Homo sapiens: one gene and its partners. The protein of the gene in region 1 interacts with the protein of each later gene in a biochemical or structural test. Each region holds a gene or a part of one and is shown in the gene's direction. Other genes may lie near its edges.

What was found.
Region 2: the proteins of CRKL (region 1) and SYK form a complex in vitro, tested with the Homo sapiens proteins (one study listed by BioGRID).
Region 3: the proteins of CRKL (region 1) and NEDD9 form a complex in vitro, tested with the Homo sapiens proteins (one study listed by BioGRID).
Region 4: the proteins of CRKL (region 1) and CD34 form a complex in vitro, tested with the Homo sapiens proteins (one study listed by BioGRID).

Annotation. Positions count from the first base shown.
Region 1 is NC_000022.11:20,926,871-20,934,579, forward strand, and holds part of CRKL (crk-like protein), read left to right. Parts: intron 1-6,908; coding exon 6,909-7,374; intron 7,375-7,709. UniProt on the Homo sapiens protein: May mediate the transduction of intracellular signals.
Region 2 is NC_000009.12:90,797,400-90,804,949, forward strand, and holds the start of SYK (tyrosine-protein kinase SYK), read left to right. Parts: upstream 1-4,419; 5' UTR 4,420-4,494; exon of another isoform or gene 4,495-4,640; intron 4,641-7,550. UniProt on the Homo sapiens protein: Non-receptor tyrosine kinase which mediates signal transduction downstream of a variety of transmembrane receptors including classical immunoreceptors like the B-cell receptor (BCR).
Region 3 is NC_000006.12:11,187,488-11,195,196, reverse strand, and holds part of NEDD9 (enhancer of filamentation 1), read left to right. Parts: intron 1-1,504; coding exon 1,505-1,606; intron 1,607-2,750; coding exon 2,751-2,852; intron 2,853-3,991; coding exon 3,992-5,233; intron 5,234-6,889; coding exon 6,890-6,979; intron 6,980-7,709. UniProt on the Homo sapiens protein: Scaffolding protein which plays a central coordinating role for tyrosine-kinase-based signaling related to cell adhesion. As a focal adhesion protein, plays a role in embryonic fibroblast migration.
Region 4 is NC_000001.11:207,907,807-207,916,430, reverse strand, and holds the start of CD34 (hematopoietic progenitor cell antigen CD34 isoform a precursor), read left to right. Parts: upstream 1-5,305; 5' UTR 5,306-5,350; coding exon 5,351-5,429; intron 5,430-5,592; exon of another isoform or gene 5,593-5,776; intron 5,777-5,873; exon of another isoform or gene 5,874-6,063; intron 6,064-8,624.

The DNA of each region.
Region 1 (7,709 bases):
GGAGGCGGAGGCAGGTGGATTGCCTGAGCTCATGCGTTCGAGACCAGCCTGGCCAACACAGTGAAACCCTGTCTCTACTAAAATATAAAAAATTAGCCAGGCATGGTGGCGTGCGCCTATAGTCCCAGCTACTCGGGAGGCTGAGGCAGGAGAATGGCTTGAACCTGGGAGGCAGAGATTGCAGTGAGCCAAGATCGCACCACTGCACTCCAGCTTGGGTGACAGAGCAAGACTCCGTCTCAAAAAAAAAAAAAAAAAAAAAAAAAGAATGGTGGTTAAAGCAGTTTCACTAGAGAAGTACTTAGCTCATCTTGGAATTGAATTTTTTTTTTTTTTTTTTGAGACAGTGTCGCTCTGTCGCCCAGGCTGAAGTGCAGTGGCATGATCTCGGTTCACTGCAGTCTCCACCTCCCGGGTTCAAGTGATTCTCCTGCCTCAGTCTCCTGAGTAGCTGCGATTACAGGCGCCCACCACCATGCCCGGCTAATTTTTGTATTTTTAGTAGAGATGGGGTTTCACCATATTGGACCAGGCTGGTCTCAAACTCCTGACCTCAGGTGATCCAATTGCCTCGGCCCCCTAATGTGCTGGGATTACAGGCATGAGCCAGTCACCACGCCCAGCTGGAATTAAGTTTTCTACCTTTTTTTTTTTTTTTTTAACTGTGAAATATTTCATACATAGAAAAGAGTAAGGGTGCCGTGGCTCACGCCTGTAATCTCAGCACATTGGGAAGCCAAGACAGGTGGATCACTTGAGGTCAGGAGTTCGAGACCAGCCTGGCCAACGTGGTGAAACCCTGTCTCTACTAAAAAGACAAAAATTAGCCGGGCGTGGTGGTAGATGCCTGTAATCCCAGCTACTTGGGACGCTGAGGCAGGATAATTGTTTGAACCCGGGAGGTGGAGGTTGCAATGAGTTGAGATCGCACCATTGCACTCCAGTCTGGGTAACAGAGCAAGACTCTGTCTCAAAAAAAAAAAAAAAAAAAAAAAAGGAAAAAGAGTAAGCCTGGGCACGTTGGCTCATGTCTGTAATCCCAGCACTTTGGGAGGCCGAGGGAGGCAGATCACTTGAGGTCAGGAGTTTAAGACCAGCCTGGCCAGCATGTGAAACCCATCTCTGTTAAAAATACAAAATTAGCCCGGCAGTAGTGGGGCCCTGTAATCCCAGCTACTGGGGAGGCTTAGGCACAAGAATAGCTTGAACCCAGGAGGCAGAGGTTTTGGTGAGCTGAGATCACACCACTACACTCCAGCCTGGGCAATAGAGTGAGACTCTGTCTCAAAAAAAAAGTATATGTAAGCTGGGTGTGGTGGCATGCACCTGTAGTCCCAAATAGTGGGGAGGCTGAGGTAGGAGGATTGCTTGAGCCCAGGAGTTCAAGACCAGCCTGGGCAACATAAACCCCCATCTCTGCAAAAAATTAAACAAGGATTGGCTGGGCATGGTGGCTCATGCCTGTAGTCCCAGCTACATGGGAGGCTGAGGTGGGAGGATCACTTGAGCCTGGGAGGTCAAGGCTATAGTGAGCCATGATCGTACTGCTGCACTCCAGCCTGGGCCATAGAGCAAGACGCTATCTCAAAAAAATTTACAAAACAAGCCAAAAAAAACTATCATCTGTGTGCTCCCTTTAAAAAATAAATAAATAAAACATTGGCCAGGCGTGGTGGCCCAGACTGTAATCCCAGGACTTTGGGAGGCTGAGGTGGGAAGATTGCTTGAGCTCAGGAGTTCAAGACCAGCTTAGACAACATGGCAAGACCCTGTTTCTACCAAAAATACAAAAATTAATCGGATGTGGTGGCATGCACCTGTAGTCCCAGCTACACAGAAGGCTGAGGTGGGAGGATCGCTTGAGCCTTGGAGGTTGAGGCTGCAATGAGCCATGATTGTGCCTCTGCACTCTAGCTCGGGCAACAGAACGAGATCCCATCTCAAAAAAAAAAAAAAAAAAAAAAAAAGGAATATTACCAGCACCTTTGAAACTTCCTTTTTCTAGAAGTTGATTGTATTGGTTCTTAGCATGCATAAGGAGATTTTAAGCTTAGAACATATTAGCACTTGGTTTAAAGATGTTTTGTGTATGGTTTATACATGTAGAAACTGAGAACGCTTTTAACCAAAAGAGCTGAGAGATTCGTTATCATCAGAAAAGAAAAGTCAGTTACGAATTAGTTGTTAGGGGCTTTGCTGCTCAAAGTGTGTAGTGGACAATAGGCAAAAAGTGAGAAGCATGGTCAAGGGTGTTTGGATGGGCTTGAAAACCCTGTGCATTTTATTTTATTTTATTTTATTTATTTATTTTTGAGTCGGAGTCTCACTCTGTTACCCAGACTGGAGTGCAGTGGCGCGATCTCGGCTCACTGCAAGCTCTGCCTCCCGGGTTCACACCATTCTCCTGCCTCAGCCTCCCGAGTAGCTGGGACTACAGGCGCCTGCCACCACGCTCAGCTAATTTTTTTGTATTTTTAGTAGAGATGGGGTTTCACTGTGTTAGCCAGGATGGTCTCGATCTCCTGACCTCTTGATCCGCCCGCCTTGGCCTCCCAAAGTGCTGGGATTACAGGCGTGAGCCACTGCACCTGCCTTATCTATTTAATTTTTTGAGACGGAATCTCTGTCTGTCGCCCAGGCTGGAGTGCAGTGGCATGATCTCAGCTCACTGCAACCTCCGCCTCCCGGGTTCAAGCAATTCTCTTGCCTCAGCCTCCCAAGTAGCTGGGCCTACAGGCACACGCCACCACACCTGGCTAATTTTTGTATTTTAATAGTGACAGGGTTTTGTCATGTTGGCCAGGTTGGTCTCAAACTCCTGACCTCATGATCCACCTGCCTCGGCCTTCCAAAGTGCTAGGATTGCAGGCATGAGCCACTGCGCCTGGGCAACACTTTATATTTTAAAGGGAAGTTGGGGGAGGGTGCTATTTTCAACCTTGCTCAAAGAACAAATAATTGGGAAGCAATAAATTTTCTGATGAATATGCTTCATATTTCTTTAGACAGTGGGGTCTAATGGAAAGGCTAAGATATCTGACATGGAGCAACATGTATTTATCTCTTCAGTGGAACTAATGTGTAATTTTCAGGGGAGTTTGATGAATAAATGAGTTTGAGAATATAGGGCAGAGGACTTGGAATTTGTGTCAGGGTTATGGCTGGTGAGATTGATTTGGTGTCAAATTTATGAATATCTCTGCAGATACTAACACAGAAAATGAGCCCCAAGGTCACTATAGCAGTATAGTAGTGGAGGGAAATAGAAACTATCTTTATCAAATTTCTACACAGACATACCCCTCACCAGGGAAGCAAGGAAGTTGAAAAGCACACTTTGCCTCCCTAACCCAGGAATTTAGATGGGGGATCAGCAAACTGTTGAGTAAAGGGTCAGATTTTAAATATTTTCAGCTTTTCCATAGAGTCTCTGTCCAACTACTCAACTATGCCTTTGTAGTGAAAAACAGTCATAGACAATACGTAAATGAATGGGCTTGGCTATCTTCTTTTTTTTGTTTGTTTTTAAGATGGAGTCTTGCTCTGTCACCCAGGCTGGAGTGCAGTGGTGTGATCTCAGCTCATTGCAACCTCTGCCTCCCAGGTTCAAGCAATTCTCTTCCCTCGGCCTCCCAAGTAGCTGGGCCTACAGGCGCACGCCACCACACCTGGCTAACTTTTGTATTTTTAGTAGTGACAGGGTTTTTTGTCATGTTGGCCAGGTTGGTCTTGAACTCCTGACCTCAAGTGATCCTCCCGCCTCGGCCTCCCAGTGTTGGGATTACAGGCGTGAGCCACCACACGCCTGGCTTTTTTTTTTTTTTTTTTTTTTTTTTTTTGAGATAGAGTCTTAACTGTTTCAGGCAGTGACGTGATCTTGGCTCACTGCAAGCTCCGCCTCCCGGGTTTACACCATTCTCCTGCCTCAGCCTCCCGAGTGGCTGGGACTACAGGCGTGTGCCACCACACCTGGCTAATTTTTTGTATTTTTAGTAGAGAGACAGGGTTTCACCGTGTTAGCCAGGATGGTCTCAATCTCCTGACCTTGTGATCCGTCCACCTCAGCCTCCCAAAGTGCTGGGATTACAGGCGTGAGCCACCACACACTGGCTAACTGCTTTTAACTATACAAATAATAAAATACTCTTGGATGGAGTCTAAGGTGGAACTGACTGTGCTCTTAATAGTGTCTGAAATTTATATGGTACTTACTGGACTGTTCACAGGCTCTCTGTGGCTCTTGAAATAGCAGGGGCTGGGTGTGATGGCTCACACCTGTAATCCCAACACTTTGGGAGGCCAAGGCGAGAGAATTGCTTGAGGCTAGAAGTTCAAGACAAGCCCTGAAAACATAGTGAGACCCCCATCTCTACAGAAAATTTAAAAATTGGCTGTGTGTGATGGCAACTGCCTGTAGTCCCAGCTACTCAGGAGGCTGAAGTGGGAGGATCACTTGAGCTTGGGAAGTGGAGGCTACAGTGAGCTGTGGTTGTGCCACTCTGCACTCCAGCCAGGATGACAGCAAGACCCTGTCTCAAAAAAAAGAGAAAGAAATAGAAGCAGGGATATACTTGAAGGGGTATGTGTGTGTTCATGTCGGTACATTGGATGCTTGGTGCTGCTCGGTAATTTTGAATGCCTCACATGCATTATGCCATTAATTCTCATACACCTGACAGATGCAGGGTTCGTCCCTAAGGCTGATTAGCTCATTATGAGTGAAGAGTTTAGAACCAGACTCCCTGAGTGCAAGTCTAACCTCTTCTTTGGCTCCTCATTTGTAAAATGGGGATAATAACAGCATCTACCTCACAGACTATTAAATAATCCAATCTCTTCAAAGATCGTAAACCATGCCTAGCATAGATAATAAGTATGAGCTCTTTATTATTACTCTTGCTCCTACTACTCTTGCTAGCTATTTATTTTTATTTTTATTTTATTTTATTTTATTTTTTTGAGACGGAGTCTCGCTCTGTCACCCAGGCTGGAGTGCAGTGGTGCAATCTTGGCTCACTGCAAGCTCCGCCTCCCGGGCTCACACCGTTCTCCTGCCTCAGCCTCCTGAGTAAGTGGGACTACAGGCACCCACCACCATGCCCGGCTAATTTTTTGTATTTTTAGTAGAGACGGGGTTTCACCGTGTTAGCCAGGATGGTCTCGATCTCCTGACCTCATGATCCGCCCACCTCAGCCTCCCAAAGTGCTGGGATTACAGGCATGAGCCACTGCGCCGGCCTCTTATTTATTTATGTTTTGAGACAGTCTTGTTCTGTTGCCCAGGCTGGAGTGTAATGATGCAGTCATAGCTCACTGCAGCTTCTAACTCCTGGGCTCAAGTAATGCTCCTGCCTCAGCCTCTTGAGTATCTGGGACCGCAGGTGTGTGCCACTATGCCCGGCTCATTTTTTGTCTGTTTAGTAGAGACAGGGTTTTGATATGTTGGACAGGCAGGTCTCCAAGTCATCTGCCTGCCTTGGCCTCCCAAGGTGCTGGGATTACAGGTCTGAGCCACCACGCCTGGTGGATTTATTATTTTTAATTTGGCAAGTCTGTAAGCCCTTTTTTGTTCCTTTTTTTTCAAGAGGCCAGAGGCAGAGGCCTTTGTCATTTTCTGTGTGTCCAGGGAAGTGTGCAGGATGTAAGCCATAGATTAGGACTGGGAGGAAGAGTGTGTGGTGGTTGTGACAAGGGTCCAAAGGAAGGCAGCTTCCGAACTTACTTGAGATTATAAAAATAAATTTAAACCAGGTATCTCTGTGTAATCAAAAGGTTTCTGTAAAACAGAGATGGAGTGTATGTGTGTGTGTATACTTGTAATTTGAAAAGACATTCAGAATAGTAACTTTTGGGACAGTACAGACTACAAAAATTACAACATGATAGAACCTTCTTAACTACTAAGAATATAGAAAGGAAAATAAAGCCAGGCGTGGTGGCTCACACCTGTAATGACAGCACTTTGGGAGGCTGAGGCGGGTGGATCACATGAGGCCAGCAGGAGTTTGAGACCAGCCTGGCCAACATGCCAAAATCCTGTCTCTACTAAAAATACAAAATTTAGCTGGGTATGGTGTTGCACATCTGTAATCTCAGCTACTCGGGAGGCTGAGGCAGAAAAATCACTTGAACACGGGAGGTAGAGGTTACAGTGAACTGAAATTGCGCTACTGCACTCCAGCCTGGGTGACAGAGCAAGATTCTGTCTCCAAAAAAAAGGCTGGGCTCAGTGGCTCACACCTGTAATCCCAGCACTTTGGGAGGCCGAGGCAGGCAGATCACGAGGTCAGGAGATCAAGACCATCCTGGCTAACAAGGTGAAATTCCGTCTCTACTAAAAATAGAAAAAATTAGCGGGGCGTGGTGGCATGTGCCTGTAGTCCCAGCTACTCAGGAGGCTGAGGCAGGAGAATTGCTTGAACTTGGGATGCAGAGGTTGCAGTGAGCTGAGATCCTGCCACTGCACTCCAGCCTGGGCAACAGAACAAGACTCCATCTCCAAAAAAAATGTAGAGGCCGGGCATGGTGGCTCATGCTTGTAATCCCAGCACGTTGGGAGGCCGAGGTGCGTGGATCGCCCGAGGTCAGGAGTTCAAGACCAGCCTGGCCAACATGGTGAAACCCCTTCTCTACTAAAAATAAAAAAAGTTACCTGGGCGTGGTAGTGGGCGCCTGTAATCCCAGCTACTCAGGAGGCTGAGGCAGGAGCATCACTTGAACCTGGGAGGCAGAGTTTGCAGTGAGCTAAGATCACGCTATTGCACTCCAGCCTGGGCGACAAGAGCAAAACTTGTCTCATAAAAAAGGAAAATAATTTATTATAGAGGAGAGTGGTATATTAAGAAGTTTGACAGGCACTGGCTTAGAGTAAGATTTTTCTCTTAGAGTAATTTTCTTTCTCTCTTAAGGTATCCAAGCCCACCAATGGGATCTGTCTCAGCACCCAACCTGCCTACAGCAGAAGATAACCTGGAATATGTACGGACTCTGTATGATTTTCCTGGGAATGATGCCGAAGACCTGCCCTTTAAAAAGGGTGAGATCCTAGTGATAATAGAGAAGCCTGAAGAACAGTGGTGGAGTGCCCGGAACAAGGATGGCCGGGTTGGGATGATTCCTGTCCCTTATGTCGAAAAGCTTGTGAGATCCTCACCACACGGAAAGCATGGAAATAGGAATTCCAACAGTTATGGGATCCCAGAACCTGCTCATGCATACGCTCAACCTCAGACCACAACTCCTCTACCTGCAGTTTCCGGTTCTCCTGGGGCAGCAATCACCCCTTTGCCATCCACACAGAATGGACCTGTCTTTGCGAAAGCAATCCAGAAAAGAGTACCCTGTGCTTATGACAAGACTGCCTTGGCATTAGAGGTAAAATCTGTTCAGATTAGCTTTTTGGGTCCTTTGACATTTGGTTTTAATTTTTAGTTTTAGTTTAGTTTCTGCTCATTTAAGCTTATATTCATGGAATTAGAGCACTGGATGATTTTGGAAGATACGCACTGTTAGCGTTTCATTTTAAAATTTTTTTATAGAGACGAGGTCTCTAATTTTAAAAGAGTTGTTTGCCCAGGCTGATTTCGAGGTCCTGGCCTCAAGCAATCCTCCTACCTCGACCTCCCAAAGTACTGGGATTACAGATGTGAGCCACCATGCCTGGCCCATTATTAGTGTTTCACAGCTTGTTTTGTTCTGTCCTATTCCTT
Region 2 (7,550 bases), on another chromosome or scaffold:
ACCAAGAGGGAACCTCAATGCAAACTTTGGGCTTTGGGTGATTATGATGTGCATTAAAGAGTGCATTGTGTTTAAGAAATAAAAGATGGCCGGGTGTGGTGACTCCTGCCATCACTTTGGGAGGCCAAGGCAGGATGATCACCTGAGGTCAGGAGTTCGAGACCAGCCTGGCCAACATGGTGAAACTCTGTCTCTACTAAAAATACAAAAAATTAGCTGGGCTTGGTGGCGGGCGCCTGTAATCCCAGCTGCTCAGGAGGCTGAGGCAGGAGAATTGCTTGAACCTGGGAGGCAGAGGTTGCAGTGAGCCAAGATCACGCCATTGCACACCAGCCTGGGCAACAAGAGTGAAACTCCATCTCAAAAAAAGAAAAAGAAATAAAAGATGCTGGTTGATCTGTATCAGTATATATCCTTGTCAAGTTTCTTAATATCTCAGTTAAAGAAAGTTTCCTCCAGCAGCCTGGAAAGAAGAGCAAGTCACCTAAAAGAGGACAAAGGACTGGCTGTTCTCACATTTCTCCAAAACAACATTCAATGCCAAAGGGGCAAGGGAGGAAAATCAACCGAGTCTAGGCCAAAGGGAAGTAGGATGGAGACACAATGTGCCCACCTTGATGTCACTGCAATACAACAGCAACAGAATAACATCCTGAAAGTGGAGAGCATTGATAGATGCAGTATGTGGGATCACATCTTCACAGAGTCCATCCAGCTCATCAACAAAGAAAGTAGGAATGAGATATGGTGGTAGAAAGGTCTGGAGGTGCATAAGGTATCCTTTTAAATGGAGAACTAAGAAGAGACCACTGAGGGTTTATGGTTACAGAAATCAAAAATTTTAAACTTAACTATGTAAAACTCATATAACTAGGGAAACGTGAGAGGTGAGCTGAAGTGAAGTGGAGTGAGAGAGGTAATTGGTTCATGTATCATAGCAGAGTTACTGATACTGTCTGAAATTAAAGCTCATGGTTTAGAAGAAATGACGAAAACTGCTTATTATTGTCACTTTTCTTTTCCTTTAATCAAAGTGGGGTCATTTCAGAAATGATACATTTGTGGCAAAGAATCATTTCTATAAAATCAGCAATTCTTTAGATCCCATTTCAGAATTTTTTATTCTGTTAAATTTAAGTAGAATTAAATATCATATTTAACATGGATAAAATGTATAATAAATGTATTATATTTAAAATGATGCCCATTTTTATATCTATTGCCATGTGTACATATAGAAAGAGATAATTTTGTAAGGGTCACCTAACGGTAATGATGATTATGTCTGAAATTTGGGATGTTTCTATTTCCTTTGTGCTTTTATTCTTTTAAGGGATTGCCTATTAGGAATACTTGCCACTGTTACCAAAAAAACTATTTTTTTAAATTAAACACTATTTTTTAGAGCAGTTTTAGGTTCACAGTAAAAATGAGAGGCAGGTACCGAGGTTTCCCATATACCCACTGACCTCACACATGCACAGCCTTTCCCATTATCAACAGCCCCATCAGACTGGTACATTTGTTACAATTGATGAACCTACTTTGACACATCATAATCACCCAAAGCCTGAAGTTTACACTGATGTTCCCTCTTGGTGTTGTATATTGTATGGTGTTTAACAAATGTATAGTGCTGTGTATCCACCATTGTAATATCATACAGCATACTTTCACAGCCCTAAAAAATCTCTGTTCTCCTTCTATTCATCCTGCCCTCCCCACCAGCCCATGGCAGCCACTGATCTTTTTACTATCCAGATAGTTTGGCTCTTTCCAGAATATCACCTGTTGAAATTATACAGTATGTAGCCTTTTCAGAGGGCTTCTTTCACTTGGTAATATGCATTTAGATTTCATCCATTTCTTTTCATAACTTGCTAGTGCATTTCATTTTAGTGTGGAACAATATTCCATTACACTGATGTACAAGAGTTTATATATCCATTCACTTACTGAATGACATCTTGTTTGTGTCCAAGTTTTGGCAATAAACTTAGTAAATAAAGCCAGCGTAAACATTTGTGTGCAGATTTTTGTGTGAACATAAGGTTTGAACTCCTTTGGGTAAATACCAAGAAGCACAATTACTGGGTACTACTTTAGGTAAATACCAACTACTTTGGGTAAATACCAAGAAGGACAATCCTCTTATAATTACTCATGTTGTAAGAGGATGTTTAGTTTCATAAGAAACTGCCAAACTGTCTTCCACAGTGGCTGTACCATCTTGCATTCACAACAGCAATGAATGAGTATTTCTATTGCTTCACATCCTCACTAGTGTTCACTGCGGTCAGTGTTCCGAATTTGGGCCATACTGATATCTTACTGTCTTCATTTGCATTTCCCTGATGATACATAATGTGAACCATCTTTTAGGCTAGGCATGGTGGCTCACGCCTGTAATCCCAGCATTTTGGGAGGCCAAGGCAGGCAGATCACGAGGTCAGGAGATCGAGACCATCCTGGCGAACACGGTGAAACCCCGTCTCTACTAAAAATACAAAAAATTAGCCGGGCATGGTGGCGGGCGCCTATAGTCCCAGCTACTCGGGAGGCTGAGGCAGGAGAATGGCGTGAGCCCAGGAGGCAGAGCTTGCGGTGAGCTGAGATGATCGGGCCACTGTACTCCAGCCTGGGCAACAGAGTGAGGCTCCGTCTCAAAAAAAAAAAAAATTACTACATGATACTAAGTAATGCGGAAGGTGACTCAAAGGGGGAAAGGAACACAGCAGTGTAAAGGAAGGAGGTTGTAGATGGATCTAGAATTTCCCCCTCATTTCCATCAGGTGAAAGCCTGAGAAAACTGCAATCTTTGTGCAGGCTGGGTTTGCTTTGTACACACTGGTCCCCTAGTGTTCATCTCCAATAATGCTGACAACTCTGAAAACCATCTGTAGACATTCTGCAGGCTCCATCTCAGGAACAATGGCTATTTTTTCGGGTAGTTGAAGCAAAATTAAGTCCAATGATAAGCAAATATAACCATTATCAAAATCTTCCATTTATGTTTGTTAAAGCAACCTAAGTATGATCTGAGAAGGACTCTGTATTCTATATTTGAGTCCTTGTGGATGAACTGTAACCTAGCTTAATAGGCAGACAAGATTGAAAACCTAATTTAGGAGTATGTGCCTTTAACAATAGCTGAGTCTTGGCCAATCCCAGTGGCCATACTTCAACCATTCATACACTGCTGAGTGTTCAAACTGTGTTCAAAGAAGGCAAAAGCCAACCTGTAACCAATCCAGTTGTTTCTCTGCCTTACCTCCAATTTCTGTATGTCACTTCCCTTTTTTTGTCTATAAATATGTTCTGACCATGAGGCATCCCTGGAGTCTCTGAATCCGCTGTGATTCTGGAAGCTGCCCCATTCGCAAATCATTCATTACTCAATTAAACTGCTTTAAATTTAATTCTGCTGAAGTTTTCTTTTAACAGGTTTAGAAAAAATAATGGCAAAAATGAATGAAAATCCAATAACCCTGGAAGCAGAAAAGGCTGGGGGCTCCAATAAGTGTAAATAGTCCCATCCCTATATTTTCTCCATGGCAATTACAATCCAGCACATTATATATATATTTTTTTGCTTCTCGCATTTTGGCTTAGGGTAAAGCTTTTTAAAACAGGCACTGCCAACCAGTGTTATCAAGAAGGTCTGGATGCCGTTTTGTGGGAACATTTTAAAGAGGAATGTCCAAAAGGAAAAGGGGGATGGGTTGGGAGAAGGGTATCAGGCGGGTATCTCAAAACCATTCTTAGGGCTATAGGTTTAATTTATTTGGTTGTGGACGTCAGAGCCGTCATGGTAAGAAGGAAGCAAAGCCTTTTGTAATAATTAAAGCCTTCAGAAGCAGCGTGCCCCATTGCCCACTAGTGCGCCGTGAAGTCTGGTGTTCACCTACAGGGTCCCTCTCAGCACTGCCCAGGCCTCCCGAGTGCTCCAGCACAGTAGCTTGGAGCTTGTTGGTTTGGTGACCAAGATACACTCCAGGGAATATGCCATGCAGTGGAGTCTCTTCCCCGGCACTGCATAGCAAAAGGAAAGGGCCGCTGGGTGTCTGTGGGTCCTGGGCAGTCACAGAAGCCACCGCGCTGGCGGGGAGGAGGGGGACCGATGCGGTCCATGTCCCGGGCAGCCCCACCTTCTCTGCCTGCGAAGGGCCCTTGTCCGGCGGGAGGAGAGAGGCGCGCCCCACCCGGGCTCCTCTACACCTGCCGCCGCCTGGGCCGATTCCGCGGGCCTCGCCCGGCGCTTCAGCCGATTCCCGCCCAGCTCCGGGCTCATGGGCGCGGTCAGCAGGGCGGGCCAGGGCGGCGGGGCGCGACACTGGGAGGAAGTGCGGGCCGCCTGCCCGGGCGCGTTAAGGAAGTTGCCCAAAATGAGGAAGAGCCGCGGGCCCGGCGGCTGAGGCCACCCCGGCGGCGGCTGGAGAGCGAGGAGGAGCGGGTGGCCCCGCGCTGCGCCCGCCCTCGCCTCACCTGGCGCAGGTAGGTGTGGCCGCGTCCCCTACCCGGCCGGGACTTTCTGGTAAGGAGAGGAGGTTACGGGGAACGACGCGCTGCTTTCATGCCCTTTCTTGTTCTACCTTCATCGGCCGAGGTAAAAGTGCTGAAACCATGTGAATAAAATACAGGTGGGTTCCGCCAGCTTCGCTCCTGAACCTACCCGCGCTCGGGATCCAGAAGCTGCGCCGGGAGAGAGGGGCTCAGGCCTGGGCGGAGGGGACGGAGGTCAGACCGTGCGGAAAGTGACCCGGGCACCCCAGGGCGCCCAGGCCCCCAGGGAGCGCGGAAAGTGCGGTCGCGGCCCGGCCCTCGGGAGACGCGGGATTGGGATCAGGCACAGCGCGAGGAAGTCGATCTTGGAGCTAGAACATTTTCCTTTGGCCATTTACACGAATCCACTGGAAAATGCCGCAGTGTTTATCAAAGTTACTCAAAGTAGAAATGTCCAGACGTCTTATGAGCTTAGACAAATCTTTTACTACAAAAAGAAACAGCAGTTGCATTCAAACAACAACCCTTCTGAACCACTACTAAAATTTAGCATAATTACTCTTGTGGATACATTTTCATTGTCAAGTAATTTACTTAGCCAATGAACTTGGAGAGCAAGAAAGTTTTATGTAGTAAAATGTAAATTTGAGTTAAGAGTTAAGGGTGTTTCTTTTTGTCTGTTTGTCTGTTTTTGGCAATGTGGCTCCAAAACCTTAAGCCCACCTAAAAACTATATAAATGCAATCCATTCTTTTGTTGGAATGTTCAAGGACTAGAAAGACAATTGGAGAAGTGAGAGTTTGAATCTTTTTTTACGTTGGAAACAGTGTTGCAAAATATTTTTTGAGTTTTGCCTGACTTAGCAAAGATTCAGTCGAACTCAAGTAGAGTTCAAAGCATTGCAGCGTGTAGTAAAAAAAAAAAAGAGTTGAAGATGTTGTGCCATATCTGATTCTTGGTATTAAAAATAAAAAAAGGAACCATTTAATCCCTAAGAGTTCCTGGAAGAAATGGAATTGATTCTACCATCTGACTTCTTTGTCTTAGTAGGGACAAATTCATTGCCTTCACACAGGCAGCATTTTAATTAAATGCAACTAAATACATTGATGTCCTCCTTCTCCCCAGTGAAAGTCCGAGCAGTGCATAGATAGAATTATATTTTCTCAAAAAGGCTTAAATACATGTAAATTATTAAGTGTTTTAAGTGAGAAATCTTTGTCAGTTGAAATTATTTTATCAAATCATTTTTGTTCTGAACGGCACTTTTGTTTTAACGTATTTAGAAAACTCTTGCATTAAAACAGAAATTGATTTGTATTATCCCCTGTATTTGAAGTGCACTTTAAAGTGTATTTGAATGAGAGATTATAATCAAATTACTTGATTTGTGTCTTATCCTCTTACTCTTCTACCTTGGATTTGAAAAGGTTGGATTTGAACACTAGGAAAAAAGAGATTTTTCTACTGAGGGATTGTGGGAAGATTTTTTTTTAAGCCTCTGTATTTGAAGTGAAATATAAAATAGGATTTTATAATAGTCTTAATAACTAGAAAGTTTTAAGCTAGGATAAAAATGGGGTGTATACTTTAGGTCTTTATCTTTCCTGAGAGATGAAATTGGTAGAAACGTTATTTTATTGCTAGATTTCACTTTAGAAATGAATCACCCTGATCTTTGTTAGGCCCCTATTTAATATTCTAAATGCAGGTCTAATCTCTCTGCTTTTTTTTAATGGAAGACTTCTTAGTAGAACTTCACTTATTTAGCACATTGTTTGCCCATGGTTATAATCCAATATGCTTGTGCCAAGACGTATTTTGGAATTCAAGCTTTTTCAGAATTTGGAATTAAAATTTAGAATCTAAATTTCAGAACTGAGAAAGACATTGCTCAGAATTTAGAAAGGTAAACATACATGTTGACCCTGCTGGTTACATGCCATTCCAATATAGTCTGGAGAGAATCCTGTAATTCCATGCATTAATATTTCTGTACTTTTACATTTAAGAACATGAATATTCTCACTAAGTGGAATAAATAAAGACTATAAAGAGCTGTGTGTCTGTTTAGAGCAGGTGTTATCACTACGAGAGCTTCTCTAAGACTTACCAAAAAAAAAAAAAGTGTTGTTTTTCAGAGCTTTTTAGAGCTGCAGCTGAGGGACTGAGTCTGTATTAGACTCCACTGAACTACGGTTTGCTTTTAAAAGGAAAGTGCATTTATGTTGTTCAATACTTCACACTTTCCAGTAATTAGAAGGGCAGTTCCTCTCTCTTTAGGGAGTCTTAAATAGCAAGATTTTACTGAATTTTCAATCATACCGATCAAAATAGAGGTACTTCAAGTAAGAGTGGATGTCTCATCTTTGTAATATAATTTCAAACAGCATAGTTTCTGACAGTCTACCATTTTAGAGAAACAGAGCAGAAGTTACTTACAGGAGGGGTTACTGTCACCCTTTACAGCTGCAGTCTGTCCATGGAAGAAATATTATTTCCTGTTAACTTTGCAACCAGCTGGGTTTGTGTCAGTTATCTAAGCCTAAGTGATGGCTAATTTTTACTTTCTCAACTTTCCCTGTATAGATTTTTTTCCAGCTACCCCCTGACTTTTCTACTCTTGCTTTGCTGGTTTTAACATTTTCCACTACTTCTGGATTGGTTTAGCTATAACTGGGTGGAGAAAACAACAACAACAACAGGAATTTAGGCCTTTGGGGAAGAATTTGTTTTGTTTTAGAAGTCTACACATTGAGCATTACTTTTTCTTCTAAAGCAACTAAAATCAGAAGGCAGAGTCCTAATGAGAGATTATGATCAAATTGCCTCATTTGTGTCTTATCACCTTCCTCTTCTACTTAGATTTGAACAGGTTGGATTTGAATACTAGGAAAAAAGGGTTTTCTACTGAGGGATTGTGGGAAGATGTTTTAAGAACTAGTCTGATTGGATTTTAGGAAAGTTCATTCATTTTGATATGATGTTATCAGGGACATTTTCTATTTGCTTATAATTTTATCTGACCAATATTAGCTTGTATCAAT
Region 3 (7,709 bases), on another chromosome or scaffold:
CCAAATTGAACTCAGGCATTTTGAGAGCGCCTGGGGAGAAGGCATTGGTGCATTTGGCTGAGTTCCACCCATTTCAGCATAAGATGGACGTGGAGCATTTTTCACATAGTTCTGTAGGCAGCCTGACGCCAGAGTTTTCACTTCAGAGAAAGGATAAAAGTTGACGGTTTCTTAGGGAACAACCAACTCTTCCTCATTTGCAATGTCTGTTCTCCTCAAAGATGTCGTGGGCAACGCTTGAGATGGGCACTCAATGACTCAAAGGGTGGGGGTTAGGCAGAAACAAGACCCTGGGCATTTAGAAGCCCTTGGACGATTACATATATTTCAAAATGAGTTAAGTTCAAATAATTTTTTGCTGGTGCTTAGCACACCAATGAAGTATGTAGATATGAAAACAGGAGGCTGCTAGGTAAGATTCATTTTATTGGCACTGGTTCCAGATGCCAGCATCGTGATGAACGCTATTTGACTTCTGATATCCCTTGACGTAGGTACTGTTGGGGATGTTTTCTTTCCTGGTGGAAATGGGAAAATGATTAGAGACCAGAGGTCAGGAGACCTGAATTCTGTTCCTGGTGCCTCCCTGACTCAGTATTTTGTTTGTTTGATACGTTAGAATGAAAGCTCCCAGAGGTTTCTAAGGACAGCACAGTTTGAGCATTGGCTTTGTAAAAGTACTCTGGTGACCTGTGGAATTACAGTTATAATCATCATAATAATGTCCAATGAAGAGGCATACTGAGGAAGGCATGAGAGGAATTTTAAGTGGCTAAACTCTATTTGCATTATTCATTTTACAAATTGTTTCAGAGCCTTAAAGCAAATTTCAGTATGCGGTACTTTAGATGCAAAATGCTCCTCTAGGACTTTCATAAGTTACACACAAGTATCCCTTAAAGTATATTTCAGAAATATGCTTGCAGTGCATCAACTCTATCTGATGAACTTTGAGATGATCACAATTAAGGGTGATAGAGATATTTTAGGGATTTTTTTTCTCATTGGGATTCAAGAGGGATTTAAAAGTTTACTAACCTGGGCCAGATGCAGTGGCTCACACCTGTAATCCCTGCACTTTTGGGGGCTGAGGTGGGTGGATCACCTGAGGTCAGGAGTTTGAGACCAGCCAACATGATGAAACCCTGTCTCTACTAAAAATACAAAAAATTAGCTGGGCATGGTGGCGTGCACCTGTAATCTCAACTACTCAGGAGGCTGAGGCAGGAAAATCACTTGAACCCGGGAGGCAGAGGTTGCTGTAAGCTGAGATTGTGCCACTGTACTCCAGCCTGGGGAGCAAGAGCAAAACTCCATTTCAAAAAAAAAAAAAAAAGTTTACTAACGTGGTGTCTACTTGTCTCCTTCCTGTTATGTCTTCTTTCTTTGGTTTCTTTCTATCTTTTTATGAGGGAGAGTTGAGGGATGAGTGCTTAGTTAGGAGGCAAGGAGATTCAAGGACTCAGGCTTGGAAATTTACACCTCTGTGCCTTCTCTCCCACAGGTGATAACCCCCGTGAGGACAGGCCATGGCTACGTATACGAGTACCCATCCAGATACCAAAAGGACGTCTATGATATCCCTCCTTCTCATACCACTCAAGGGGTGCGTACCAGAACATGGTCACAAGAGGAGAAGCGCTTCTAAGGGTAGCATTCCTTCAGGGCTGTAGAGAAAAGGGAGTTCACAAATTATGCATTAATATATGTCATATGAAGCTTTGTTTAGGTTGTCTACCCAGTAGCCACTTTAGCCAATGCTATTTAAATTATGTTTTCTGGATTTGCTTTATCAGGAAATCCTAGTATTTCACCCAAGAGAGCTTATGTTCTTCTACAATTTTGCTTCAGAAAGTAGATTTTTCTTTTTTCTTTTTTTTTTTTTTAAGACAGAATCTCACTTTGTTGCCCAGGCTGGAGTGCAGTGGCTCTATCTCAGCTCACTGCAACCTCCACCTCCCAGGCTCAAGCAACTCTCCTGCCCCTGCCTCAGCTTCCCAAGTAGCTGGGACTACAGGCACACACACCACCATACCTGACTAATTTTTGTATTTTGTAGGGACAGGCTTTTGCCATGGTGGCCAGGCTGGTTTTGAACTCCTAACTGCAAGTGGTCTGCCCACCTCGGCCTTCCAAAGTGCTGGGATTACAGGTGTGAGCCACGGCCCCCAGCTGGAAAGTAGAAAATTTAAACTACACTTTAAAGTACAGACAGCGTAGATATTTCACATAAGATCTTTTTTTTTTTTTTTTTTTTTTTTTTTGAGACAGAGTCTTGTTCTGTCACCAGGCTGGGAGTGCAGTGGCACGATCTCAGCTCACTGCAACCTCTGCCTCCCGGGTTCAGGCGATTCTCCTGTCTCAGCCTCCCAAGTAGCTGGGACTACAGGTGTGCACCACCACACCCAGCTAATTTTTGTATTTTTAGTAGAGATGGGGTTTTACCATGTTGGCCAGGATGGTCTCGATTTCTTGACCTTGTGATCTGCCCACCTCAGCCTCCCAAAGTGCTGGGATTACAGGCGTGAGCCACCGTGCCTGGCCAAAATCATTTTTATATTAAATGTAAGTTAAAAACCATAAAATGTATTAAAAAAAAAGGCAATAAATCTGTTATAACATGGAGCACTGCCAAAGATCAAGCTTGTACATAACCTGGTAAATAAATCCATAATTAAGTGCTTAGGAGCATAAAAAATGACCAAGTATAAGACATTTCCATTCTGGGTAACTCACGGGTTTCTCTTCAGGTATACGACATCCCTCCCTCATCAGCAAAAGGCCCTGTGTTTTCAGTTCCAGTGGGAGAGATAAAACCTCAAGGGGTGTATGACATCCCGCCTACAAAAGGGGTGAGTGAGTGACTACAAAGCAGCAAAAAGGAGTGTGTGTGTGTGTCTGTGTGTCGGGGGGTGCAGGGTTGGGAGGGTGGGTAAGTAGTTCACTCGAATAAAACAAGAAAGGCAAACCCAAAAGGGGAAAATGTAGTCTTGGTGAGAGTAAAGGAAGGAAGCAAAAAAGGAAAGGCACTAATTAAAGATAGCTCTAGGGATTTCATATTGAGAAGCCCCAACTAAAAAACACTAGGTGGCCAATAAGGATAACCCTTTGGCAGGGAAGATAATTAGTTCAGTTTGGCAAGTACTAATATATATTTGTAGAGGGTTTGTTTTGTTTTGTTACATTTTGTTTGAGACAGGGTCTCGCTCTGTCACCCAGGCTGGAGTGCAGTGGCGCAACCACAGCTCATTGCAGTCTTTACTTCCCAGGCTCAAGCAATCCTCCCACCTCAGGCTCCCAAGTAGCTGGGACCACAGGTGCACGCCACCATGACTGGATAAATTTTATTTTTTGTAGAGACGGTGTCTCCCTATGTTGCCCAGGCTTGTTTTGAACATATGGGCTTAAATGATCCTACTACCTTGGCCTCCCAAAGTGCTGAGATTACAGGCTGAGCCGCGCCTGGCCTGTAGAGGGTTTGACAGTTTCCTCAGTGTGTATGTTTGAGTGAACTCGTTTGACTCACTCTGTTACCCTATGGGGTATGCCTGCACAGGAGGCACAGTAATCCCTACTTTACAGACAAGGGGACTGTGTTTCAGACGCCTATGCAGCTCATTCAGCATCACACAGCTGGTGTGATAACCAAAAAGACCGGGGGAGAACTCTGGTCTTACTCTGCCTCTCGGCACAGATCAGCAGAGAAAGGATACCCAGGAGGTGGTCAGAAACACAGGACTGGAAACACAGGGTGAGCAATTTAGCCAGGAGGGTTGTACATACGAGTCTGCACCAAGAACGTGGGGTTGGACACACTTGGCAAAGGACAAGGGAAGTGACAGCAGAATAACGGGGAACCTTGGAAGTGCCTAACATTGGGGCGGGGGAGGGCGACCGAAAAAGTGCCAGCAAATAGGACTGAGCACATGGGACCACAGGTTCCCATGAGCCAACTCAATAAATAGCATTTCGCTTTCTACTTGCTTTGCAGGTATATGCCATTCCGCCCTCTGCTTGCCGGGATGAAGCAGGGCTTAGGGAAAAAGACTATGACTTCCCCCCTCCCATGAGACAAGCTGGAAGGCCGGACCTCAGACCGGAGGGGGTTTATGACATTCCTCCAACCTGCACCAAGCCAGCAGGGAAGGACCTTCATGTAAAATACAACTGTGACATTCCAGGAGCTGCAGAACCGGTGGCTCGAAGGCACCAGAGCCTGTCCCCGAATCACCCACCCCCGCAACTCGGACAGTCAGTGGGCTCTCAGAACGACGCATATGATGTCCCCCGAGGCGTTCAGTTTCTTGAGCCACCAGCAGAAACCAGTGAGAAAGCAAACCCCCAGGAAAGGGATGGTGTTTATGATGTCCCTCTGCATAACCCGCCAGATGCTAAAGGCTCTCGGGACTTGGTGGATGGGATCAACCGATTGTCTTTCTCCAGTACAGGCAGCACCCGGAGTAACATGTCCACGTCTTCCACCTCCTCCAAGGAGTCCTCACTGTCAGCCTCCCCAGCTCAGGACAAAAGGCTCTTCCTGGATCCAGACACAGCTATTGAGAGACTTCAGCGGCTCCAGCAGGCCCTTGAGATGGGTGTCTCCAGCCTAATGGCACTGGTCACTACCGACTGGCGGTGTTACGGATATATGGAAAGACACATCAATGAAATACGCACAGCAGTGGACAAGGTGGAGCTGTTCCTGAAGGAGTACCTCCACTTTGTCAAGGGAGCTGTTGCAAATGCTGCCTGCCTCCCGGAACTCATCCTCCACAACAAGATGAAGCGGGAGCTGCAACGAGTTGAAGACTCCCACCAGATCCTGAGTCAAACCAGCCATGACTTAAATGAGTGCAGCTGGTCCCTGAATATCTTGGCCATCAACAAGCCCCAGAACAAGTGTGACGATCTGGACCGGTTTGTGATGGTGGCAAAGACGGTGCCCGATGACGCCAAGCAGCTCACCACAACCATCAACACCAACGCAGAGGCCCTCTTCAGACCCGGCCCTGGCAGCTTGCATCTGAAGAATGGGCCGGAGAGCATCATGAACTCAACGGAGTACCCACACGGTGGCTCCCAGGGACAGCTGCTGCATCCTGGTGACCACAAGGCCCAGGCCCACAACAAGGCACTGCCCCCAGGCCTGAGCAAGGAGCAGGCCCCTGACTGTAGCAGCAGTGATGGTTCTGAGAGGAGCTGGATGGATGACTACGATTACGTCCACCTACAGGTAAAACAGCGGAACTCATAAAACACCTACACTCACTCACATGCAGGGAGCCTGAGAAAGATGCCTATAAGGATGTCGGGTTGGACTGCCAAAGGAGAGAACATAATTAATGTTAATCTACATGGTTCACAAATTGGAGGGAGTGTCGTAGAGTAGTAAGAACGCTGGGCTGAGAGTCCTGAGTACTCACTCAGATCTAGCCCTTTCTCTGACGTTTACTGTGTGACCAACTTATTCAACCTCCTTGGGCCTTAATTTCCTCATTTGCAAAATGAATGGGGTAAGGGGTTGGATTAGATCCCGTTGATATACCTCAGGTAAGAGGAGACTCACCAAGTAGGATAATAGGCCCTCTAATAATAATACCAGCTCCACTTCTATTTGTGTTTTATGTATAGTTCCATGCAATATTTTATTTGAAAAAAAAGTTTTCGTCATTAAGAAAAAGAATAGAAGACCTTTGCACCAGAGAATTTCTAAGGCCCCTGCTAGCCCTACTCTGTGTATGTGTGTGTATAATTGCTTTAAAACTTAGCCCCATCTCAGACTTACCTAGAGGACCACTGGGCATTAGCTAGCTGTCCTAGGAGCTTAATCTGTGTATGGGACATTGGATAGTCACAGTTGGCCTCCTACAATTGGGAATTCTACCAAGCTCCAAGTTGACCTGGGATTCCGACAGCTTTCCCTTCCACTTTGAGGGATTAAAACATTCTACTGGCTGGGCGCAGTGGCTCACGCCTGTAATCCCAGCACTTTGGGAGGCTGAAGCAGGTGGATCACAAGGTCAGGAGTTCAAGACCAGCCTGGCCAATATGGTGAAACCCCATCTCTACTAAAAGTACGAAAATTAGCCAGGCATGGTGATGCACGCCTGTAGTCCCAGCTACTTGGGAGGCCGAGGCAGAAGAATCACTTGAACCTGGGAGGCGGAGGTTGCAGTGAGCTAAGATCGTGCCACTGGACTCCAGCCTGGGCGACAGAGCGAGACTCTGTCTCAGAAAAAAAAAAAAAAATCTACCAAGATCCATTGTTTAGGACTAGGCTTACTATCTTATTCTGCCATTCTTTTAATTTGACTGAGAGTCACAGATTATACTGAGAACTACGTAACTATTATGCCAAATTCCCTCAAGCGCAAGAAAGTGTGGCAAGGAGAACTGAGCCCCACCTGATGCTGAGGAAGGAAGTGGAGAGAGAGAGGATGGAGGCATTGAACATTCATCTTACTGGTTGTCTGACCCTGCACAGTGGGAACTACTGCCTTGGAGCAGAAATCTATAGATGATTTGAGGGAACTAGAAGTGAGAGGTGGACCACATTTAGACCTGCATTTGGGGGTTTACAGGTTCACATATAATCTATGAGAAAAGAACCCAGAGACTATAAAAAGAACATTATATATGAGATTTGAAGGGAATCATGAGTAGCTCTCCGAAAATTTTAAGGTGCCCCAGAAAGCTGGCACCCTATATGGCAATGGGCTTTATTTTTCTGCCACCCCTGTCGTCTAGGGTTCACAGTGCCTCACTGGGCATTTGAGATGTTGCCAAGGCAGTGGAAAATAAAGAGTATTTACTCATCCGTCAATGAAATTGTTAGCATAAGTGAATCACAGTGATGACATAATATGTTCTTTATGTTGAAAATTAACAGGGTAAGGAGGAGTTTGAGAGGCAACAGAAAGAGCTATTGGAAAAAGAGAATATCATGAAACAGAACAAGATGCAGCTGGAACATCATCAGGTAAGTTCAATCAGAGCAAAAACTGCTTGGCATTGGAAAGATTTCCCACCTAGCACTAAGGAAAGGTATCACTTCAAGAGATTATGATTTTGATTCTTCCAGCTCACTGGCAGGAATCAGCTCCAAAGCACGGAATGGGGTTTAAAAGCAAAGAGAAGGTTTATGACCTTGTTAGTTCAACTGGGTGTACCTGGGTTCCATCTAAACGGCAATTTTTTTAAAGGCTAAACCTGCATATCTAACATATGAGGACTATTTGGGTTAAGGCATTTGGTCTCAAGAAACAAGACCCATTCAAGCTAGCCTAAGCAAGCAGGTTTATAGTAAAGCCACAGTAGGGGAATTCAGTAACAGAAAGTGAAGATAGAGCCAGGTCTGGGGAGAACTAGAACTGTAAATTATCTCTCCTTCTTGTAGTTCCTTTGCTTCTTTCTATCAGTCTACTTCACTCTCACCTATTTTCTGGTTTTCTCTAATTATCTACTCATTTGGCTCCCCTGTAACTTTGCAGAACCCATAAATGGCCACTCAGAACTTCTATAGATGGCTTTTCATCTCGGCTTCCTCTTCCGATGGTTAGCTCCCTTCTCTTGTTCATCAGATTCCCAAGAAAGAGTCTGATTGGGCCACGTTGATTGGGCCATTTCTCTTTCTCTCTCTCTCTCTCTCTTTCTGTCTCTACCTCGCTATTTGTCTCTCTTTCGCCAGCAACACAAGCCTATGGTTTGCC
Region 4 (8,624 bases), on another chromosome or scaffold:
TTAAAAGAGAAAAACCATATGTAATTTTAATAGGTATAGATAAGGCATTTGAAAAAAATCATCATTAGTTCATTATTAAAGAAAAAAATCTTTTAGTCAATTAGGAATAGAAGAGAATAACCTTAAAATGATAAAAAGCACATATAGGCCAGTTGCAGCAACTCATTCCTATAATACCAGCACTTTAAGAAGCCAAGGTGGGAGGATCACATGAGGCCAGGAGTTCGAGACCAGCCTGGACAATATAGCAAGCCCCTGTCTCTAAGATAAAATAATAATTTAAAAATGATAACTAAATAAATAAAAAGCACATTTAAAAAATTAAGCAAATGTGGAAACATTAGAAGCTTACACTTCAAAATCTGGAATGAGGTGAGGATGTGCATGATCACCACTCCTTTCTATCCTTAGATGTTCTTGCCAGTATATTAACTTAAGTAAAACAAATCAGTTGCAGAAGGATTGGGAAGGAAACATAAAATTATCACTATTTGCTTGTGATATGATCATTTACATATAAAACCCAAAATAATCTAGAAATACTTCAATCTAATAAGATAAGTTAATAAGGTAGCTCAATAAAAGATTAATATAAAACAATAAATTGCAATTTCATACACCAGCAACAAAAATAATTAAAAAGAAGATAATATTTGCCATAGTCTTAGAGGACATAAATTACCTAGGAATAAATCTAACAATGAATTAAATGAATTTATCACTTAACAATAATGAATGAATTAAAACCATTACAGGGAAAATTATAAACTTTAATGAAGACTCAAACAATGGAGATATATACCAAGTTCTCTGAAGGAAAGATTCCGTTCTCCCCAGGTTGATCTATGGAGGAATTTTGATCAAAATCCAAAAGGCTGTTTTGGAAGGAAATCTGATAAGCATTTATAAAATTGTATATTATTATTATTATTTGGAAGAACAAAGAGCCAAGAATAGTCAGGGCATTTCTGAAGACAATTTGGGAGAGGAAAACTTGCCCTACAGATGTCTGAACTTATTTAATGCTACAGTAAATAAGGCAATGGCGAAGGCACTTGGGGTGTCCATACTGACCAATGCTAGAGAGCCTAGAGCCAGACCCACATACGTATGAAATGTGGAACACGACAGAAATGGCATGTCAGGTCAGAAGGGAAAGAAGAGACTACTCAGTAAATGCAACTAGGAAAATGGTTAGCTGTATGAAAAATACATAAAACTGGTTTTCTGCTAGTTATTTATTTTGTCTCCCTCAGCCCCAACCTACTCCTCTGTACTTTTCTCTATAATACTGGCTACAATGTGTGTTTGCTCTGTTACATGAGAATATTCAGTTTCATACAGAGGACAAGAAAAGCAGGTGGGTGAAACTCATCAGATGTATTAACTATAGATACAAAGTAAGCAAGTCATTTGTGAGACATAGGCAGAATTCAGAAGATGTGCTAAAAATGCAGGATGGAGTATCCCTTATCCGGGATACTTTTTGGATTTTGGAATACTTGCATTACACTTATATGTTGAGCACCCCATTCCAGAAATCTGAAATCCAAAATGCCTCAATGAGCATTTCCTTTGAGTGCCATGTCAGTACTCGAAAAGTTTCAGAATTTGGAGCATTTCAAATTTCAGACTTGGGATTCTCAATCTATAGTAAGTTAGTAACCTGCAAGACATGTAAAACAGAATAAATGGAATAGACTACAAAAGGATGGAACAAACAAGAGTGCTACTTACAGGCAGAAAAGGATAGGAAAAAACAAATCATAAGCCATGAGGTATAGATTATGCCACCTTCTGGCTGGTGTCCATGTCATCCCTAAATTGACTACCTACTGGTGGCACCTTCTGGCCCCCCATAAGCTCTACCCAAGAAATACTGGCAAAAAGTATGGCTTCCCAGAACACTGACAAAGACCTGTGGCCAAGCCTACCTACCCTTAAACATCTCTCAATAGAATGAGTATACCTTGGTTCTAAGCATCTTCCTCATATTGATCCCCTTACTCAATCTCAGTTCTGGTCCTCATAACTATACCACTGCAGAGCGAAACACATGACTGAGGCTGTGAGACTGTGCAGGACTTTTGCCCTGCTTGCATTCCCAAGTGTATCAACCTTGTGTAAATCTGTCCCCTTGGTTCTGGCTCTATGCTTTAAATAGATTCCATAACCCTTGTGATTTGATCATCATAATTTGGTCTGAGTCTTCCTGATCTGTGGCCTCTGGAATAGCCTGCCTATCATGGAGGCAAACATTGCATCATGGTGACTTACCACAGGACACTGGTTCCCAGACTCCCTTGTCAGCTGATTTCTTGTTAGGTTCTGCCAAGAGGAGGCACTGGAGGGAGACTAGAAGGTGGAAAGAGGAAAAAAGGGACTTGCAGGTTGTCACTGCATCAGTCCAGCATCTGAACACTTCTACCGCTAAGGATCCCTGCCAAACTGAAAAAAAAAAAAAAAAAAAAGTTTGCAATGTGGGAAAAAAGTCTTGGTTCCAAAATATAAAATTGGAAAATCAAAATTCACAAATTTTTCATTAAATGCCTACAAAAATGTCAACTCAACTTGTAAACTGCAATTCAACTCTTTCATAGTTTCATGTAAATATAATAAAGTTTGAATTATAAGAACAAAATGAATATATTTTAAAATTCAGAATTATAACAACCATTTTCCTTACTTTTTTAACATCAGACATATTTGACATAGGATGAGGTCCTCTTTTAGGTTGATTGACATGATGCGTGTGTATTTTGGGGAGGGGTGAGGTAAGGGATGTTTAATAGTAAAAGTGGTTGTGACCTCCAAGGGTCTGTAAAGGGCCTGAGACAGCCTCTGACTCAGTGTATTTCTGTTGTATCCTCCATTTTGTGCGGTGTAGCTAACATCTTCTAGCAACAGCTTATGAAGCAGGAGAGCAGAGAATTGAGGAGCAGCCCAGAAAGGCTAGAACTTTGAAGAGACTACATAGCTCAACTCTACCTGGCCTGTGAGGAAATGTAAGGCTGGGGTCCCTGGGTACCCTTGTGTCCAGTGGCCAGAACGTGTGTTTGGGGGTGGCTTGGGCAAGGGTGTGTGTGCTTGGGGTGATGAGTCTCAGTGACCCTGGAAAATATGAAGAGTGGCCAATCACTGTCTAGCTTTGTAGTTCTGGGGCTATCCATAACCTTTGCAAGCCAGAGAAGAAACAGCTCTGGTCTCTCAGAGGAAGGGATTTGCCAGCCTCCCATATCCCCTACTTCTATTTTTCCTCCCTGAAGCCTGACATCCACTTCGCCCTTGCTCCTTGTACCCAGCAAGTGTTCTTTCTATACCAGGGCTTCTTGAACCTCAGTGTGCATGAGTCATGGAGAATACTTACTCAAAGTACAGATTCTGGCCCTCACCCTTGATTCTGTGTAGACCATGCTTTGAGAAAACTCTGCTCCACAGAATCATTCTCTCTCTCTTTGCTCCCAAAGCTAGTTAAGAAGTTCAGGTACTAAAGAAAGACAAGTTATTTCCCCTGTTTCCCGTGGTCCAGCTATGGGAGACAAATGGTATTTAAAGTAACCAGAAAAAAAAAATCTGGAAATGGAAGTTAAAGTGGACCAAATTAGCTTTCATATCTAGCAGGGATTACAACCCCACATTTGTTCTCAACTGCACACTGGATGCCTGAAGCAGACCGAGCGGTCCCTGGAGCTGAGGAAGTTGAGGGGAGTGGGGGGCCTGGCAGTGTTGGAACTAACTCCTTTTCCCTGTTAATTGGGAGTCCCAAGGACCAATGACTGATTTTAAAATGCATGTTTGCCACTCCTTCTGTCCCCAGGCCCTTGCCATCACTATGTGATCAGTTCTGAATCATCATTTGTACTTTGAAACAGATTCATACCATTCCGTTGTATTCAATCAAATTAGCATATCAGGCCTTTGCTCTTATTGTGTGATGAAAGACTTTGTTCCCTGTTTAAAGGAATGCTAGGCAACAAGACCAGAATAAGGAGATTTTGGGTTTGTTTTTAGACCTGGATCCTTCTCCTGTGCAACCCCAACGCATAGTAGGTTTGAGATGGACTATAAAGGTAAAGCTACTTTTATAATGCTAGAGTGTCTGCGGAGAAATCAGAAAGGACCACAGAGTGCTGGTCTGGCTTCTCTTTTTTCCCTTTAGGCTATGTGGTACAGACATCATGGAAGAGCCTGAACTGAGTATTTATAATTTCATGATTCTGCTCTGGATATCAGAGCAGCCTCTCCCAGGTTATACCTTATCTGATCCTCCCCTGGTGCCATCATCTGCCCAGGCTGGCTTCTCCTTTCTCCCGTCTCTACGTCCCCAAGACTAGGCTGCCTACCCGGCTCAGAGTTTCTTCTATTCAGTACAACCAACACCCAGAGGAACTGGTGAGGAACAGGAAGCTCAAGGATCTATCAAGTGGTGGAGGATGGAGTCACAGAAAGTCCTTTTTCTGATGGGAGAGCAAGGTGAAATCCCTAGTGGCTTAGACCCAGGGCTGGAGAGGGGATAACTGGTGAGAAGGCATCCAGGGAAGTCCTTTTTCTTTAGGATGATGGTGATGGGGAACTAAATGGGGAAATATGGAAGGTCACAGGAAAAGTTAACACAAGTTAGCAAAAAGTTAACATAACACAAAAAGGTCTTGCAGGAAAAAAAAAAGAAAAGAAAAGAAAGAAAAAGTCTCCAAGAATGGTTTGGACAGCCAAAATGAATACTTATAGTCACGTATACCTGCTCACTCCTGACGCTTCACTCACACACAGCACAGGATCTGGTGAGGCTATCACTAAATGTGCCACATTGTGGTTAAGTTTTACCTGATTAACGAAATGCTCACACTTCTAAACTGAGGTCCTTACAGTAGATTCCTTTTGCAAGATTGTTACTGGCTTACAACTTAAAAATAAAGGAAAATCACAAGGAAAGAAAAGTGGGGAAAAAATCGGAGGAAACTTGCCCCTGCCCTGGCCACCGGCAAGGCTGCCACAAAGGGGTTAAAAGTTAAGTGGAAGTGGAGCTTGAAGAAGTGGGATGGGGCCTCTCCAGAAAGCTGAACGAGGCATCTGGAGCCCGAACAAACCTCCACCTTTTTTGGCCTCGACGGCGGCAACCCAGCCTCCCTCCTAACGCCCTCCGCCTTTGGGACCAACCAGGGGAGCTCAAGTTAGTAGCAGCCAAGGAGAGGCGCTGCCTTGCCAAGACTAAAAAGGGAGGGGAGAAGAGAGGAAAAAAGCAAGAATCCCCCACCCCTCTCCCGGGCGGAGGGGGCGGGAAGAGCGCGTCCTGGCCAAGCCGAGTAGTGTCTTCCACTCGGTGCGTCTCTCTAGGAGCCGCGCGGGAAGGATGCTGGTCCGCAGGGGCGCGCGCGCAGGGCCCAGGATGCCGCGGGGCTGGACCGCGCTTTGCTTGCTGAGTTTGCTGCGTGAGTACCGCCCGCGCGCCGCGGCCGCTTGGCTTCGCCGCGGGGAGGGTGGAGGCTTTCTGGGAGGCTGAACAGCAGAGCAGAGTCTCACGGAGGGAAGGGACCCCTGCCCAACCCACGCACTGCCGCCCACAGCTGCTTCCCCCCGGGGCCAGCGCCTCACCTGGGAGCTGACGGGGGTGGGAGGGGAAGGGAAGGCCATCACCCCCGCGAGTGTGCGTTAGCCGAGGTGTGAATCGGTCAGCACGACTGGTTCCAATGGACTGAGATAAAGCGCTTTGGAGATGCCAGGGTCTCTTCTGGTTGCCAGAGGCGCGGAGTGCGAAGTTGCAGCCAGAACCGGGAGACTGGGGAGGAGAGAAGCAGGAAAAGTTTTGTGGCTCTTGGTTGATTCAGAAAGTATAGACACGGAGCGGATTGCTGGGAAGGGGCCGGTGTGCCCACCTTGCACAGGGACTGGGAGAGCCAGAAGTGGACATTAAGGAATTCGAGGGAAGCGAATCAGGGATGAGGCTCCAGGTCCCAGGCCAGGGGTGTTCGGAATGAACAGTCCGTGAAAAGGAAAAACAAAACCAAACAACCAACCAAACAAAAACCTTGCATTTAAGATTGGGAAGCTGAGTTTGAATTCCCACTTCAGCAACCCCACCGCGGAGGAGGTAGAAGTAGACAGAATTTGCTCTGCGCCCAGCCTCGCTCGCCTTACCAAAAACCGTCACCCCTGCACAAATTTCAAAACTTGTCACCTTTTGGAGTTTTCTTCCTCTGCCCCTGCTCCAAGTTCTAAAGCTAGTGGATGGGTTAGAACACTGCCCCCACTCACCTACACATATCCTTACTCTTAAGGTCTTGCTCTCACTTCGGTTAAAAAAAAAATAGGCACCCGGTAAATATTTATACTCGATTACTTTCCTTGGGGAATGACATTCTCCACCTCATCTCTTTGCACTTGGAAGGTTTGAAACTTTTGAAACTTTGTACATTGCTCTCCCTTTTGCTTACAGCACTCTAGGGCTCCCAATTCTGTACTCTCACTACATCCTAAGGGCCACCCACTGTGGCCCTGCAGAGTGACCTGGACTAGACCTCTTTGTTCCCAGTCTCCTCTGTTGTCCATCTTTGGGTCCGCCCAGCTGGGGACAGCTGCCCCTGGGCTGGAGGAAGCTCTGAGAGAAGTTTTGGGTTGCCCTGTTTGGCAGTCCTGGATGTGTGCTTTGGGGCAAGGAAAAGCTATCAATGAGGTTTCAAAATTCTAGAGTGGGTGCTAGACTAGGCCCTCATAACAGGAGTGAGTCGGCCGGGCGCAGTGGCTCACGCTTGCAATCCCAGCACTTTGGGAGGCCGAGGCAGGCAGATCATGAGGTCAAGAGATCGAGACCATCCTGGCCAACATGGTGAAACCCCATCTCTACTAAAATTACAAAAATTAGCTGGGCATGGTGGCACACCCCTATAGTCCCAGCTACTCGGGAGGCTGAGGCAGGAGAATCCCTTGAACCCAGGAGGCGGAGGTTGCAGCGAGCCAAGATCCTGGCACTGCACTCCAGCCTGGGAGACAGAGCGAGACTCCTTCTCAAAACAAACAAACAAACAAAAAACAAAAAACAAAAAAACAGGGGTGAGTTGGCCAGTGGTGCAGATTCCAATCAGATGCTCCATTCTCCTTTGGCTACACAGCTTGTGATGACCTGGTCCTCAGCCGAATGAGGTCCACCCTTTTCTTATTTCCTCAGCTGGTAAGTGCCAGTCTCGCCTTGGCCTGCCGAGGTTGGGGTTGGGGGAGCAACACAACCTTGGCAAAACTTTGGACTGATATGCTGAGAATATCCCAGCTTTTGGTGGGGAGGGATGAGGCACAAGGCCCCATTCCCAGCCTTGCCAGACTACTTGAGCCAATTGTAGTTTTATGCCCTTCCCAAGAGCTTTCTAGGGTTTTTGCTTGGATTTGTTTTGTTTTGTTAATACTAGGAGTCATTTTCAGTCCTGGGATACATTGTGGGATAAATGAGATAACTGAGTGTACCTTGAAATGCTACCATAGGGCCATTGCAGAAATGCTATTATTATTGTAAAATTTAGGGTAGAGGGGATTTCTGTGGTTTGTTTTCTCATCATTTACCCCAACAAAGAGCTTGTTTTGGGAAGTTCTTTTTTTCTGTCCCTTTGAGAAGGTGGCATGTGCATAGGCACTGCAACTAACCAGAAGTGGGCTGTCTTTGTTGGAAGTGGGGGAGATCACAGAGCAGAGTCAGGGTAAGGGGCTCAAGGGCCACCAGGCAGCACTGCCAGAGTGCTGGCTGGAGCAGGAAGCCTTTCAGGTAATTAGGGAACCCCTTTGTCAGGCTCAGGGTATCTATTTCCTCCAAGCTTTCCAAGGCCTGTCCCTATCCTCACTCTAACAACACCCCCAGGCCCTCCCCGTCACATTCCTCTTCTTCCTTTGGGTCCTTCGTGCCTGCTGACCCCACACCCATATCCTGTCCAGGGCTACATGTAAGAGGGGAAAAATAAAAGGGAAAAGAATTTTATCAGCTATTTTCCAGAGGGGAGAGGACTCCACCCTTTGAATCTCTGCCATATGGCGACAGAGGAGGAGCAGGCTTGGGGACCTCTGACTAATTCAGTGGTCCCCAGTGCTCCGCACTTGTAGACCCAACCCAGTTGGCACCACCTTTGCAGATGCATGTCTTCAGCAGCATTTCTGTTCGGCTGATAAAACACACAGGGGCCTGGGGCCTCTTTTTCTTATCCCTTTGGCTCCACCTCCTGGGCCTCCTCATTCCCTTGTCCTCATCTCCTTCCTTCGCAATCTTTGTCTCAAAAAGCTTAGGGCAAGAAGTGCCAAACTGCAGCAGATAAACTCAGCTGCAGAGTCCTACGAAAACAAATGAAAATGAGGAACAAATTCCACTTCTTACCGTTGGTCTCATTGCCTGATTTCCTTTAGACCCTGAGCTGGAGGGCCTGGGTTTACTTTCAGGGCTGGATGGTTACCCAACTCCACTCTCAGGTACTTGGGCCTCCCTCTCTCATTGACTTTGGTTGATCTAACTAAATGGCTTGCAGTGTGGAGAATTAAAAATAAGAAGGTATGGAAAAAGAACACAACACCACCCTCCAGAAGAAAATTCTCACAGTCGCCAGGGCTGTGAGAATTCCATATTTTTGTGGGCTTGGACTTCTCTAATGAGAACA